4 linked regions of the Homo sapiens genome follow. Changing the gene in region 4 together with the main gene of any one other region gives a genetic interaction. Each region holds a gene or a part of one and is shown on either strand. Other genes may lie near its edges.

What was found.
Region 1: changes in NF2 (region 4) and TYMS together harm fitness more than expected from each alone (negative genetic interaction), as found in Homo sapiens cells (one large-scale study listed by BioGRID).
Region 2: changes in NF2 (region 4) and UBE2K together harm fitness more than expected from each alone (negative genetic interaction), as found in Homo sapiens cells (one large-scale study listed by BioGRID).
Region 3: changes in NF2 (region 4) and NCSTN together harm fitness more than expected from each alone (negative genetic interaction), as found in Homo sapiens cells (one large-scale study listed by BioGRID).

Annotation. Positions count from the first base shown.
Region 1 is NC_000018.10:660,653-664,152, forward strand, and holds part of TYMS (thymidylate synthase), read left to right. Parts: intron 1-1,493; coding exon 1,494-1,668; intron 1,669-2,333; exon of another isoform or gene 2,334-2,353; coding exon of another isoform or gene 2,354-3,500. Other genes in the region: ENOSF1 (mitochondrial enolase superfamily member 1), read right to left, coding at 2,354-3,500. UniProt on the Homo sapiens protein: Catalyzes the reductive methylation of 2'-deoxyuridine 5'-monophosphate (dUMP) to thymidine 5'-monophosphate (dTMP), using the cosubstrate, 5,10- methylenetetrahydrofolate (CH2H4folate) as a 1-carbon donor and reductant and contributes to the de novo mitochondrial thymidylate biosynthesis pathway.
Region 2 is NC_000004.12:39,771,136-39,774,635, forward strand, and holds part of UBE2K (ubiquitin-conjugating enzyme E2 K), read left to right. Parts: exon of another isoform or gene 1-564; intron 565-3,500. UniProt on the Homo sapiens protein: Accepts ubiquitin from the E1 complex and catalyzes its covalent attachment to other proteins. In vitro, in the presence or in the absence of BRCA1-BARD1 E3 ubiquitin-protein ligase complex, catalyzes the synthesis of 'Lys-48'-linked polyubiquitin chains.
Region 3 is NC_000001.11:160,342,224-160,346,182, forward strand, and holds the start of NCSTN (nicastrin isoform 1 precursor), read left to right. Parts: upstream 1-1,159; 5' UTR 1,160-1,173; coding exon 1,174-1,258; intron 1,259-2,252; exon of another isoform or gene 2,253-2,366; coding exon of another isoform or gene 2,367-2,391; intron 2,392-2,498; coding exon 2,499-2,603; intron 2,604-3,959. Other genes in the region: COPA (coatomer subunit alpha), read right to left, coding at 908-947. UniProt on the Homo sapiens protein: Essential subunit of the gamma-secretase complex, an endoprotease complex that catalyzes the intramembrane cleavage of integral membrane proteins such as Notch receptors and APP (amyloid-beta precursor protein).
Region 4 is NC_000022.11:29,669,633-29,673,132, reverse strand, and holds part of NF2 (merlin), read right to left. Parts: intron 1,308-3,500; coding exon 1,185-1,307; intron 1-1,184. UniProt on the Homo sapiens protein: Probable regulator of the Hippo/SWH (Sav/Wts/Hpo) signaling pathway, a signaling pathway that plays a pivotal role in tumor suppression by restricting proliferation and promoting apoptosis.

The DNA.
Region 1 (3,500 bases), on a different chromosome or scaffold from region 4:
CAGAGGGCTGAGTAGGTACCTCAGGCCGGGGCCAGAGTGCTGTGAAGACAGGCAGCAGCCCAGACCAAGCTTCTCTGTGTTCCGTGTCCTGGTCTAGAACCAGCGATGTTCTTTCTGACCAGTGCTTTTTGGAAGGTGGCTGAGGTCTGGGCTCAGGTCTGGGCCATACTAGAAGCTGGGATCCCTTCTATAGAGCACTTGGTATGGCTTGTATGGTCTTGGGGCAAGCCAGACCCAAGCCCTCTTATCCCATTTTAGAAAGGGCTTCAATTTGGATCCAGCCCCAGGTCTGCCTTAGCTCTGTATTCTTGGGGTATTTTGTTCTGTATTGGCCTATCTTGACTAACAATGAACCTTGGATTTGAAACATATCATCAGAAACCTCAGAAGACAACATTCTTAAACTGGCTAGAGCCTGGTCTGAATGGATGAAAAGGAGAGACTTTTGAAGCAATATGTAAAAGATTGAGAAATGATTTGTTGGAAATTTCTCAATTGGAGAAATTTCTTTGATTTGTTGGAAATTTCTTTGATTCTTTCTCAATCAAAGAAAATCGGGACAAACTCAACAATAGAAAGGGAGGAAGCAAGATACTCAGAAATAAAATGCATTCCCCTGTTTCAACTTAATGCTTCAATTCAGGATTCTAAGGAATCCTTGCCAGGAATGTCAGACTCACCTTGATAGTTGGAGTTACTCCATTGGTGACTCGATCAAATACAGGAGTTGAGGCACCTGCACTGTAAAATACTGATTAGTCTGATCATTAGGAATATCCTGTATGCCAGGTAGAAGATACATTGAACAGATTGCATGTAGGCATTAAATTCATTTTGGGGTATTACATATAGACAACACATTTCATTAAGAAACATAAAACTGTCAGATCGGTGGAATACTTAAAAGCACTTGGAGGTGTTTAGCCTAAAAAGCTTAGTTGAGGGGAATGGAAGAAAAGATCTGGGAGGGTGGTTCCAAAGAAGGGATCAGACTGTCCTAAAGCCCTCAGGAATCTGGGCTGGGACCAGCCTACTTAAAGATAGGATGGGCAGCTGGGTGTGGTGGCTCACGCCTGTAATCCCAGCACTTCGGGAGGCCGAAGTGGGCGGATCACCTGAGGTCAGGAGTTCGAGGCCAGCCTGACCAACATGGAGAAACACTGTCTCTACTAAAAATACAAAATTAGCTGGGTGTAGTGGCGCATGCCTGTAATCCCAGCTACTCGGGAGGCTGAGGCAGGGGAATCGCTTGAACCTGGGAGGTGGAGGGTGCCGTGAGCCACGATCGCGCCATTGCACTCCAGCCTGGGCAACAAGAGCGAAACTCTCAAAAAACAAAAAAAAGGATGGGTTCCATATGGGTGGTGTCAAGTGCCCACCTCCTAGCAAGTCAGCAGGGGCCAGAGGCCCTTGTAAGTGGTGTCTCGGGGGGATCAACTGAGATGGCTTAGGATTTACCTGGATGCCTGCTCTGCTCTCCCCATCTCTTCCAGGGATCCACAAATGCTAAAGAGCTGTCTTCCAAGGGAGTGAAAATCTGGGATGCCAATGGATCCCGAGACTTTTTGGACAGCCTGGGATTCTCCACCAGAGAAGAAGGGGACTTGGGCCCAGTTTATGGCTTCCAGTGGAGGCATTTTGGGGCAGAATACAGAGATATGGAATCAGGTGAGGAGATAGAACAATGCCTTCCATTTCCCGGGTGCCCTTCCTAGCATGTGTTTGCTCCGTTGTTTTAGATAAGGTCTGGGGGATGAGTCAATGTCACAGGAGCTGATGTATAGCTTTGACCTTGTGAGGGGTGGTGCCAGGTTAAGCCACAATTAAGCCTCATGAAGGCCGTTTCACACTCTTTTTTTTTTTTTTTTTTAATTATTATACTTTAAGTTTTAGGGTACATGTGCACAATGTGCAGGTTAGTTACATATGTATACATGTGCCATGCTGGTGCGCTGCACCCACTAACTCATGATCTAGCATCAGGTATATCTCCCAATGCTATCCCTCCCCCCTCCTCCCACCCCACAACAGTCCCCAGAGTGTGATGTTCCCCTTCCTGTGTCCATATGTTCTCGTTGTTCAATTCCCACCTATGAGTGAGAATATGCAGTGTTTGGTTTTTTGTTCTTGCGATAGTTTACTGAGAATGATGATTTCCAATTTCATCCACGTCCCTACAAAGGACATGAACTCATCATTTTTTATGGCTGCATAGTATTCCATGGTGTATATGTGCCACATTTTCTTAATCCAGTCTATCATTGTTGGACATTTGGGTTGGTTCCAAGTCTTTGCTATTGTGAATAGTGCCACAATAAACATACGTGTGCATGTGTCTTTATAGCAGCATGATTTAATAGTCCTTTGGGTATATACCCAGTAATGGGAGGGCTGGGTCAAATGGTATTTCTAGTTCTAGATCCCTGAGGAATCGCCACACTGACTTCCACAATGGTTGAACTAGTTTACAGTCCCACCAACAGTATAAAAGTGTTCCTATTTCTCCACATCCTCTCCAGCACCTGTTGTTTCCTGACTTTTTAATGATTGCCATTCTAACTGGTGTGAGATGGTGTCTCATTGTGGTTTTGATTTGCATTTCTCTGATGGCCAGTGATGGTGAGCATTTTTTCATGTGTTTTTTGGCTGCATAAATGTCTTCTTTTGAGAAGTGTCTGTTCATGTCCTTCGCCCACTTTTTGATGGGGTTGTTTGTTTTTTTCTTATAAATTTGTTTGAGTTCATTGTAGATTCTGGATATTAGCTCTTTGTCAGATGAGTAGGTTGCAAAAATTTTCTCCCATTTTGTGGGTTGCCTGTTCACTCTGATGGTAGTTTCTTTTGCTGTGCAGAAGCTCTTTAGTTTAATTAGATCCCATTTGTCAATTTTGTCTTTTGTTGCCATTGCTTTTGGTGTTTTAGACATGAAGTCCTTGCCCATGCCTATGTCCTGAATGGTAATGCCTAGGTTTTCTTCTAGGGTTTTTATGGTTTTAGGTCTAACGTTTAAGTCTTTAATCCATCTTGAATTGATTTTTGTATAAGGTGTAAGGAAGGGATCCAGTTTCAGCTTTTTACATATGGCTAGCCAGTTTTCCCAGCACCATTTATTAAATAGGGAATCCTTTCCCCATTGCTTGTTTTTCTCAGGTTTGTCAAAGATCAGATAGTTGTAGATATGCGGTGTTATTTCTGAGGGCTCTGTTCTGTTCCATTGATCTATATGTCTGTTTTGGTACCAGTACCATACTGTTTTGGTTACTGTAGCCTTGTAGTATAGTTTGAAGTCAGGTAGTGTGATGTCTCCAGCTTTGTTCTTTTGGCTTAGGATTGACTTGGCGATGTGGGCTCTTTTTTGGTTCCATATGAACTTTAAAGTAGTTTTTTCCAATTCTGTGAAGAAAGTCATTGGTAGCTTGATGGGGATGGCATTGAATCTATAAATTACCTTGGGCAGTATGGCCATTTTCACGATATTGATTCTTCCTACCCATGAGCAT
Region 2 (3,500 bases), on a different chromosome or scaffold from region 4:
ACGATGTCCCTAACAGCGAATTCCAGGGTGCCCGTGTAGCAGGAGAGAAGCAGGTCGGCCACGATGCGTGCACTGTGCATCAGGGAGACCTGCAGCTCCGAGCTGGGGTTAAGCAGGAACTGGTCCCGCAGGAACGGTGAGCAGGCGGCTAAGATGACCTTGTGGCCTCGAAACTTGAGGCTGTCGGCCACAATGGTCACGTCGCAGAACCACTCCTCTGCCCGGAGCTTGTTCATGTTCCGTAGCGTAGCGGCCTAGTGGCCGGGCAGCTGGAAGCGCAGGACTTCACCCCAGAGGCCATTGTGGCGGGGGTGGGCAACCCTGGCCCGGTTCCGCGCGCTGTTTTTTTTTAATCCCCTATTTTCCCCACCCCCGCGGGGCCGGAAGCGCCCCCCACACACGGGCAGAGCCAGGGCAGCATGTAGGCGCAGGGCGGGAGGGTGTATAGGGCGCGCTCGCGCTGGCGGGGCCGGCTCCACGTGGGCGTAAAGGGGTAGGGGCGGGAGCGGCTCGTGCGGTGTGTTCCAGGCCTCGCGCGCGCGGCGACGGCGTCGGCTAGGACTCAAACCCTGGAGTTTCTGATTCAGTAGCTCTGGGATAGAGAAAACTTCCCAAGGGATGCTGATGCTGCTGGTTGGATGAACAACACTGAGATCATTGCTTTAAGACATCCATTGTTGGTTGTTGGCAATAACTTAACTTTTTGGCTAGGGGTGGAGGTGTAGGAGACAGTCTGGCTGTCTCCCTCAGGCTGGAGTGCGGTGGCGCCATCTGGACTCACTATAACCTTCGCCTCCCAGGTTCGAGCGATTCCTGCCTCAGCCCCTCAAGTAACTGGGATTACAAGCATGTGCCACCACATCTGGCTAATTTTTGTATTTTTGGCAGACAGTGTTTCGCCATGTTGCCCAGGCTGGTCTCAAACTCCTGGCCTCAAGTGATCTGCCTGCCTCGGCCTTCCTAAATGCTGGGATTACAGGCGTCAGCCACTGCACCCAGCCTAAATTAACTTTTATCGTAGGCATCTAGGGAAGTACTATTTATGTACCAAACTTGGGAAAATTGAGAAAACAGTCACTAATTTTTTCTATTTTGTGGTTCAAATCAGGAACCCAGTTGAAAAAGGCTGGTTTAGAGTAATTGGCTAGTTGTCGTGGCTCACACCTATAATCCCATCACTTTCGGGGGCTGAGGTGGGAGGACTGCTTGAGCTCAGGAGTTCAAGACCAGCCTGGGTAACATGGTGAAACCCTGTCTCTACCAAAAAAAAAAAAAAAAAATTGTTTTTAATTAGCTGGGCGTGGTGGTGTGCACCTGTAGTCCCAGCTACTCAGGAGGCTGAGGTATGAGAATCACCTGAGCCAAAGAGGTCAAGGCTACAGTGAGCCTTGATTGTACCACTGCACTTTAGCCTAGGCAGCGTGAGACCCTATCTCAAAAAAAGAAAAAAAGAAGAATGATCTAATTTACATGGTAAAAATGGGCATTCTCTTTACATGTAACATTTTTAATATGTCCACATATTTATACATACCTCTATTAATTGATAAAGCAACTTTTTTTTTTTTTTGAGATGGAGTCTCGCTCTGTCGCCCAGGCTAGAGTGCAATGGCATGATTTTGGCTCACGGCAACCTCCGCCTCCCGAGCTCAAGCGATTCTCCTTCCTCAGCCACCTGAGCAGCTGGGATTACAGGCACATGCCACCACGCCCAGCTAATTTTTGCATTTTTTGTAGAGATGAGGTTTCACCATGTTGGCCAGGCTGGTCTTGAACTCCTGACCTCAGATGATTGCCCGCCCTGGCCTCCCAAAGTGTTGGGATTACAGGTGTGAGCCACCGCGCCCAGCCAGTGAGACAACTTTTTTTAACAGAAATGCCAAGAATTATTGCTAGACAGGTAGATACTATTTTTTAGACAAATATTAGCTTTATAAAGATATTTTCCTTATAAATACATTTAGAATCATAAATTAAGTGATGTAGTTTAATCCAAAAAACTTGTCCTGTTTCAGAATGTTATGGAATGATTTCATATTTTCTTGAAAATATGGCCGGGCGCGGTGGCTCAAGCCTGTAATCCCAGCATTTTGGGAGGCCAAGGCGGGCGGATCACAAGGTCAGGAGATCAAGACCATCCTGTGTCTCACGGTGAAACCCTGTTCTACTAAAACTACAAAAAATTAGCCGGGCATGGTGGCATGTGCCTGTAGTCCCAGCTACTTGTGAGGCTGAGGCAGGAGAATTGCTTGAACCAGGGAGGTGGAGGTTCCGGTGAGCCGAGATCGCGCCACTGCACTCCAGCCTCGGCGGCAGAGTGAGACTCCATCTCAAGAAAATAAAAGAAAAGAAAAAAGAAAATATATTTGTTTCATAGTATCTTGTTTTTAGAGTGCCATTGAAAGAAAGCCTCACATGCTATTAGTACTAATGATTTATCACTTTAACTTTGTTTAGAGAAATGGATAGAAAAATAAGTGAGTGGATAAAACTAACAAGAAGGTGGCTGGGCGCGGTGGCTCACGCCTGTAATCCCAGCACTTTGGGAGGCCGAGGCGGGCGGATCACGAGGTCAGGAGATCGAGACCATCCTGGCTAACACAGTGAAACCCCGTCTCTACTAAAAATACAAAAAATTAGCCGGGCGTGGTGGCGGGCGCCTGTTGTCCCAGCTACTCGGGAGGCTGAGGCAGGAGAATAGCGTGAACCCGGGAGGCGGAGCTTGCAGGGAGCCGAGATCGCGCCACTGCACTCCAGCCTGGGCGACAGAGTGAGACTCCGCCTCAAAACTAAACTAAACTAAACTAACAAGAAGGATCTTGGCAACAAGAAAAACAAGGACAGTTCAGAATTCGAGTTGTCTTAAGAAATAGAAAAGCTGGCCGAGTGTAGTAGCTCACACCTGTAACCCTAACCTTTGGGAGGCCAAGGTGGATGGATCACCTGAGCTCAGAAGTTCGATACCAGCCTAGGCAACATGGCAAAACCCCGTCTTTACGAAAAAAGGAAAAACAAAAAAAATGCTGGGTGTGGTGGTGTGTGCCTGTAGTCCCAGCTACTCGTGAGGCTGAGGCAGGAGAATCGCTTGAGCCCAGGAGGCGGAGGTTGCAGTGAGACAAGATAGTGCCACTGCCCACTCCAGCCTGAGCGGCAGAGCAAGACACTGTCATTAAAAAAAAGAAAAAAGGCCGGGCGCAGGTGGTTTTTCATGCCTGTAATCCCAGCACATTGGGAGGCCAAGGCGGGCGGATTACGAGGTCAGGAGATCGAGACCATCCTGGCTAACACTGTGAAACCCCGTCTCTACTAAAAAAAAAAATACAAAAAATTAGCTGGGCGTTAAGGCGGGCCCCTGTAGTCTCAGCTACTCTGAAGGCTGAGGCAGGAGAATGGCGTGAACCCGGGAGGCGGAGCTTGCAGTGAACCGAGACTATACCACTGCACTCCAGCCTGGGCGACAGAGCCAGACTCCGTCTCAGGGGAAAAAAAGAAAAAAGAAA
Region 3 (3,959 bases), on a different chromosome or scaffold from region 4:
AGTGGATGTCTCAGGATTCCAAGGCAAGCCCATCTGACTTCAAAGACCAAGTTCCTAACCACTTTGTTACGCTGCATCTCACTAAATATTCTAGATACTATTTTTTCCAGGTCTTCGGAGACCTTACTTCTCTGACTTTCACATTCTAACGTTCTGAGGCTAATACTGCGATCTCAGTATTTGCCCTCCACCCCCAACGACCCACACTCGAGCTCTAGAGCTGCCGTACTTAGCAAATAAAAATACGAGATTTCCAGATAAATTTGAACTTCTGGTAAGCAACGACAGACTAAAAAACTATTCATTGTTTACCTGAAATTCAAATTTAACTGGGTATCCTGCATTTTATCTGGCAACTCTATCAAGTTGAGACTTTATTGGGGTTATAAGCCTCAAGTACTATTTCCGGGTAGTAAATAAAGCCGAATGGAGGCACTGATGTTGAGATGCTGCAGCCAAGGCCTCCTTAAGTGAGGTTGCCACTACTCGTCTCCAAAAAGGCTACTGACTCGGGTGCGAGTAACAGAGATCGAGACTCAGTTCCCAGGGCCACTCCATATAACACAGTCATCAAAAAGCCAACAGATCACAGGGCCTTTGGAGCAGAACAACACAAATCGGGAGCACAGCCAAGAGAGAAAGGGGGAAGAAAGAATAGGGAGGGGGTCTAAGGAATCCCCTGCAGTGTGGGAGCCACTTTATAGGTAAATCGAAGCCCAAGGACACACCAAAGAAGAGGGGACTGGAGAACCGCTAGCCAGGCCCAACCTCTCTCCCACCCTCCGTCTTCCTCCGGGTCCGTCTGGTGGGCCCATTTCGACCAACACCTCTACCCATTTTCTCTTCCCCGGTGTCAGCGCCGCTCCTGACATCCAACCTCCATGTTCCCCCTTTTATTCTCCACTACCTTTGACCCGCGCGCTCTTGGTCTCGAATTTGGTTAACATCTCTCAGGTCTCCGACTCCGATGTCTTAATCCGAGCCCCGACACACCCTGCTGCCCTTCGGACGCCTCCACGTCAGCGACCCTCTCCCGCGGTTTCCGGAAGCGCCTGGAAACACGAACTTCCGGTCTCTTAGGCTCCGGGCCACAGAGACGGTGTCAGTGGTAGCCTAGAGAGGCCGCTAACAGACAGGAGCCGAACGGGGGCTTCCGCTCAGCAGAGAGGCAAGATGGCTACGGCAGGGGGTGGCTCTGGGGCTGACCCGGGAAGTCGGGGTCTCCTTCGCCTTCTGTCTTTCTGCGTCCTACTAGCAGGTGAGGCCTCCCCGCCCGTGAGCTCCGTTCTCTAAGGGGAACTCTCGGATCGGCCCCGCCGCGACCGCCACTGTCTCCCTTCTGGTTCCTGCTGCCCCTCTGTCCCCCCACCCTGTAAATCCTCTTTCTTTTTCGTTCCCACGACAGAAGTTCCCCCTTTGCCTGGACCTGAAGGTCCCTTCTCCCCCGCAGCACGTCGTGTCGCTTCACTCCCTTCTCTAGGCCTCTTCCTGGACTTCGAGCCTGACCCTCTCCCACTTTGTCCAGATGTCTCGTTTTTCCCACAACCCCAGCCACCCACCCCACAGTCGAAAGGAACAGGTGTGAAAGTTAGCTTTCTTCCTCGCGTTTAGACTTTTTGAGACGAAAGCAATCTTGTTCTGTGGGTGCTGTGCGGCGCTTAAAAGGTGGATTTCTTATTTCTTCCTCTGTTGATTACATCCTAAGTCTGTGTCCCCCTGCCTTGCCTCAGGTTTTTTTTTTTTTTTTTTTTTTAATCAGTAAAGCAAGAATAAGGTAGGATATGGGTACTCTTAACTGTGAAGACCCTGAAGTAACAATTCAAGGAACTTTTGGCATTTATAATGTACTTAAGTGTTTGCTGATACGCGTTCATTTACTGATACATGGCTTTTTAGTTGGTCAAGCCCTAAAATGCAAATGCCTGTATATAACTATGACTGTGCCTTCCCCCAATTCACATTGTTTTTAAGGATCCTCAAAGGAGAAACTACAGCTGCCCCACACTGTGGGCACACAAATGACCTGCTGATGTTAAATTAACTGACCCGTGTATGTCATAAGGTTTCTCTCAATTCTGTTCACACTCTTGGAAAAATGCCTCAGAAAGTTTTCTTAGCCCAGCACCTGTGTATTAACCAATTAGTAATATACATACAGGATATACAAGCAGAAGTGTGATCACCTGTGCAACCAGAATCTGGCAAATCTAAGGTCAAACACCTTTCCTTTGACCAAGTTTTCTCTCTTTTAGTGTCACTGTCAATGGCGCTACATGGACTTTGTAATAACCCTTTGAGGCACATAGCTGGGTGCCATGTAGAACATGTATCTGTTACGATAAGTGTGTGCCCAAGAAATCAGAAGAATGGACTTTAATCTCATTTTAGAAAGTATGATATTAAATGATTTACCCAAGCCATACTTCAGGTTAATGACACGATAGAAGCTAGTACCTGTGTCTCTCAAATTTTTCTAACACTTTTTATCTTCCGATCAGGTTTGTGCAGGGGAAACTCAGTGGAGAGGAAGATATATATCCCCTTAAATAAAACAGCTCCCTGTGTTCGCCTGCTCAACGCCACTCATCAGATTGGCTGCCAGTGTGAGTTGAGATGGATTCATGTTTGTGGACATTGATATTTGTCTGTGCCCTAGATACTAAGTAACATCCATGTCCTGCTTAGGAGATTTGACACTTATATTGGACTGTATGTAGGCAGTTACAGATAACCGTCTGTCAAGCTAGGCAAGATAATTAATAAGAACTAACATTTAGTAAATGCTGCATACCAAGCTTTTTACATGTGCATCTCATACAACCCCAACCACAACCCCACAAAATAGGTCTTACTGTTATTGTCACTTTATAAATGATGAAACTAAAACTTAAAGAAGTTGAGTAACTTTCCCAAGATCATACTGGTAATAAGTGATGATGCCAGGATCTGGTGGCCCGAGCACTAAGCTGAGAGACCTTTTTTTTTTGACACGGAGTTTCACTCTTGTCCCCCAGGCTGGAGTGCAATGGCACGATCTCGGCTCACGGTGACCTCTGCCTTCTAGGTTCAAGTGATTCTCCTGCCTCAGCCTCTTGAGTAGCTGGGATTACATGCACCTGCCACCATGCCCAGCTAATTTTTGTATTTTTAGTAGAGATGGTGTTTCACCATGTTGGCCAGGCTGGTCTCGAACTCTTGACCTCAAGTGATCCACCCACCTTGGCCTCCCAAAATGCTGGGATTACAGGCGTGAGCCACCGCACCCAGCCGAGCCAGCACTCTTAACCACCCTATTATACTGTTTTTTAAGGAGAAAAAAGTCTCATATTCTATGGTGTCCAGTTATCACTTGCACTCTGAACTTTTTGGAACCAAAATGGGCTAAAGGCAATGAACTATCTGAAGAGAAGGCACTGAAAATGCCAAATAGGCTGGGCGCAGTGGCACATGCCTGTAATCCCAGCACTTCAGGAGGTCAAGGCGGGTGGATCACTTGAGGTCAGGAGTTTGAGACCAATCTGCCAGCATGGTGAAACCCCCCCATCTCTACTAAAAATACAAAAATTAGCCGGCTGGCTGCTATGGCATGCCTGTAGTCCTAGCTTCTCGGGAGGCGGAAGCAGAAGAATCCCTTGAGCCCAGGAGGCGGAGGTTGCAGTGAGCTGAGATTGTGCCACCATACTCCAGTATAGGTGACAGAGTGAGACACTGTCTGAAAAAAAAAAAAAAAAAAAAAAAGAAAATGCTGAATAATTGCAAGAGGAATTAGTGAAGCATTCTATTTATCCTTTTTTAAAACTTTTTTTCCTTAAATTCAACTGACAGGCCGTTTATTTTCACACTTTGTGTGTTCCAAAAGAAGGTTCCATGACACTGTGGCTTTAAAAACTATCAAAATCATAGGGCAGGAAAAGTAGTAATCTAAAGGCTAACCTGCTGTCTTCAGATTTTGTTTCCCA
Region 4 (3,500 bases):
CTGACAAGAAATGACAAGCCACATTCCCCAACTTTTCAGAAGGGCCCTTCGGGCTGCACCCATGGGGAGTAACAAGAGCACCTTCTCTGAGTACCCACCTCAGCTCAGGCTTATGCTTCACGTGGAGAAAAACAACTTAAACTCTGTTCTTTCCCTTTAAATCAGTGGTTAGAACCAGAGGAGTTTTTTGTCCCCTGCAAGAGACATGTGGCAGGTGGGGCACGGTGGCTCACGCCTATAATCCCAGCCTTTTGGGAGGCTGAGGCGGGCAGATCACCTGAGGTCAGGAGTTCAAGACCAGCCTGGCTAACATGGTGAAAACCCATTTCTACTAAAAATACAAAAAAAAAAAAGCTGGATGTGTTGGCGCGCACCTGTAATCCCAGCTACTTGGGAGGCTGAGGCAGGAGAATCGCTTGAACCCAGGAGGCGGAGGTTGCAGTGAGCCAAGATCATGCCATTGCACTCCAGCTTGGGCAACAAGAGTGAAACTCCATCTCAAAAAAAAAAAATAAAAGTACAGCTGGGCACGGTGGCTAACACCTATAATCCCAGCACTTTGGGAGGCTGAGGCGGGCAGATCACGAGGTCAGGAGTTCGAAACCAGCCTGACCAACATGGGGAAACCCCATCTCTACTAAAAATACAAAAATTAGCTGGGCATGGTGATGCATGCCTGTAATCCCAGCTGCTCAGGAGGCTGAGGCAGGAGAATTGCTTGAACCTGGGAGGTGAAGATTGCAGTAAGCTGAGATCGTGCCACTGTACACTCCAGCCTAGGCAACAGAGCGAGACTCCGTCTCAAAAAAAAAAAAAAAAAAAAGAGACATGTGGCAATGTCTGAAGATGTTTTGGATTGTTACAAATGGAGGGTGAGGTGCTGCTACTGGGATCTAGTTCCTACAGCAAAGGATGGTCAGCCCCAAATGTCAGTAGTGCCCAGGCTGAGAAGCCCTGCTATAAAGGCAACCTCGTGGTGAAAGTGGAGTTTGGCTGCACATAAGCTCAACCTAAATCTGCTTCTGCCAACACAGGTGAAAAGAAAAGGCACTGATTTTTTCAAAGCTGAAATTAAGTATTTCAAAGCAAACGCTGCTAACTCATGGTTTTCAGGAGACCAAGCTCCAGAAAAGCCAAGGAAGTCCCCAAGTAGCCTCCTGGAACCCCAGCCCCTCAGAAATCACCAGTGCTTCGTTGGCCATTGTTGCTTCTTCTTTCATCTGCAGCAGCCTCCTCTCCAACTCATCCCTCGTGCGTTCAGCCTCCTCCCTCATCTGCTTCTCTCGAGCGAGGCGCTGCCGCTCCATCTGCGAGGGGTGAAGAAAAACAGTCATTGAATCACAGGGCTCGAGACCTAGGGTGCCACAAGGGCCCAAAGATGCCCCATCTCCAGTCTCCCCTTTTGGGACCTTTTTCCTTCCCTTTCCTTTAGGTAGCCAGGGTCATTCTTATTGCCCCCCACCCCGTCCTTCTAAACCAGTTGCAGAGTTGAAAGCTGTGCCACTTGAAAAACAGTCTAGTGGTGAATGAACAAATGAACAAACAATAAAAACCTGTTGAGTCTTGACCCGGATAGAAAAAGGCATTCTTTTTTTTTGGTGGAGGGGACAGAGTTTTGCTCTGTCACCCAGGCTGGAGTGCAGTGGCGCGATCTCGGCTCACTGCAACCTCCGCCTCCCAGGTTCAATCAATTCTCCTGCCTCAGCCTCCCGAGTAGCTGGGACTATAGGCACCCGCCACCATGCCTGGCTAATTTTTGTATTTTTAGTAGAGATCAGGTTTCACCATATTGGCCAGGCTGGTCTTGAACTCCTGACCTTATGATCCACCCACCTTGGCCTCCCAAAGTGCTGGGATTACAGGCATGAGCCGCCGCGCCTGGCAGAAGGAGGCATTCTTATACACGGTGCACTGAAATGGCTACCTTGCCAATGTTGCTTTTTGTTGGGAAACCCCAGGTGGCTCTGCCCCATGGCCGATGGGATGCAATGCAGGACCTCCTCCCTCAGATAGAGCCCCAGAAATAAGCAGCTTTCTCATCTGGGCAGGCAAGCCATCTCACCATTTCTAATCCACATGGACCCCTCTCACATCTCTGATTTCATCAACAATAGCTCCACTCTTGCCTCTGACCCACAGAGAAGATGGAATCATTCTACGTGATGCATCAATAGTTCACACATTGTATTTCACAGGGGGGAGCTGCAACAGCCACAGCACAGACTTGCACAGCCTCATGTGGAGACAACTCCTGAGCCAGGCCTAGGACAGGAGGGAGCCAGGCGGGAAACACAGCCCCGTGTCCTTAAGGCAACAGCACAAAGCCACCACTACCTCCCTTGCCTTCTGGATCACTGCATTAATTGGGCCACATGCTGAGCTTAATAAGGGGAACAAGCACAAGACAGTGCCATTCCTCTGTGATCCCAGGGTACTAACTGAGTTCAAAAAGCAGAACCCAGAAGTGACCACTGCACTATTTTCTGCCTTAAATAATTAAAGCACATTTAATTACTTCTTGCTTCAATCTTATCCCACACTCTGGTCATACAAGGTTTCTAAGACTGCTGCTTTTTCTAAATCCTAAGCCAAATACACACACACACACACACACACACACACACACACAAGCTCAAAAAGATAATGCAAAGACAAGCAATAAAACAGTGAAAGTTCTTCTCCAATTTTCTCCTTGTAAGTCAATGAAAAGCTTGGCCAATTTGTTCTCTAATTTCCATCATATTACAATTTCCATAAGGTGGCTTACTACATATCTACAATTCTTTTAAAAAAAAAGAAACTAAGAAAGAAAGAAAGAAAAAGCCCAGTCAGGCCAGGCAGGCATAGCAGCTCATGCCTGTAACCCTAGCACTTTGGGGGGCTGAAGTAGGAGGAATGTTTGAGCCCAGGAGTTTGAGATCAGCCTGGGTAACATAGCAAGACCTGATCTCTACGAAACAATTAAAATTAACTAGGTGTGGTAGCATGCACTTGTAGTCCCAGCTACTTGAGGGGCTGAGGCAGAAGGATTGCTCAAGCCCAGGAGCTTGAGGTTACAGTGAGCTATGATGGCACCACTGCACTCCAGCCTCAGTGACAGAACAAGACCCTTTTATTAAAAAAAAAAGCCAGGTAATCTCCTTCAGTTCCTGGCCCTGTACTTTCCCTGAGACCTCTACCCCAATATAAAAGACCTCCTATTCACAAAAGAAGTTTACTGCATACAAAGACTGTAAGGTGTAATATACGTCCCTTCATCTGAGATGGAGAAGGTATATCATTAGTTTCACCTGATGGATGAGAAAACTAAGGTCTGGAAGGTAAGTCATTGACTTACTCACATTCTAAATTTCAGATCTGGCTCCAAGGTCAGTGTCTGTCCACCTGATCTGTGGTTGCCCAGATGCCAGGTTTGTGGCTCTGCTGTGCTGTAAGCAGTGCCGATCTGCAGTGTTCCTGCTATTCTCTGCCAGGGCCCACAGACTGCATATTCCCTGACA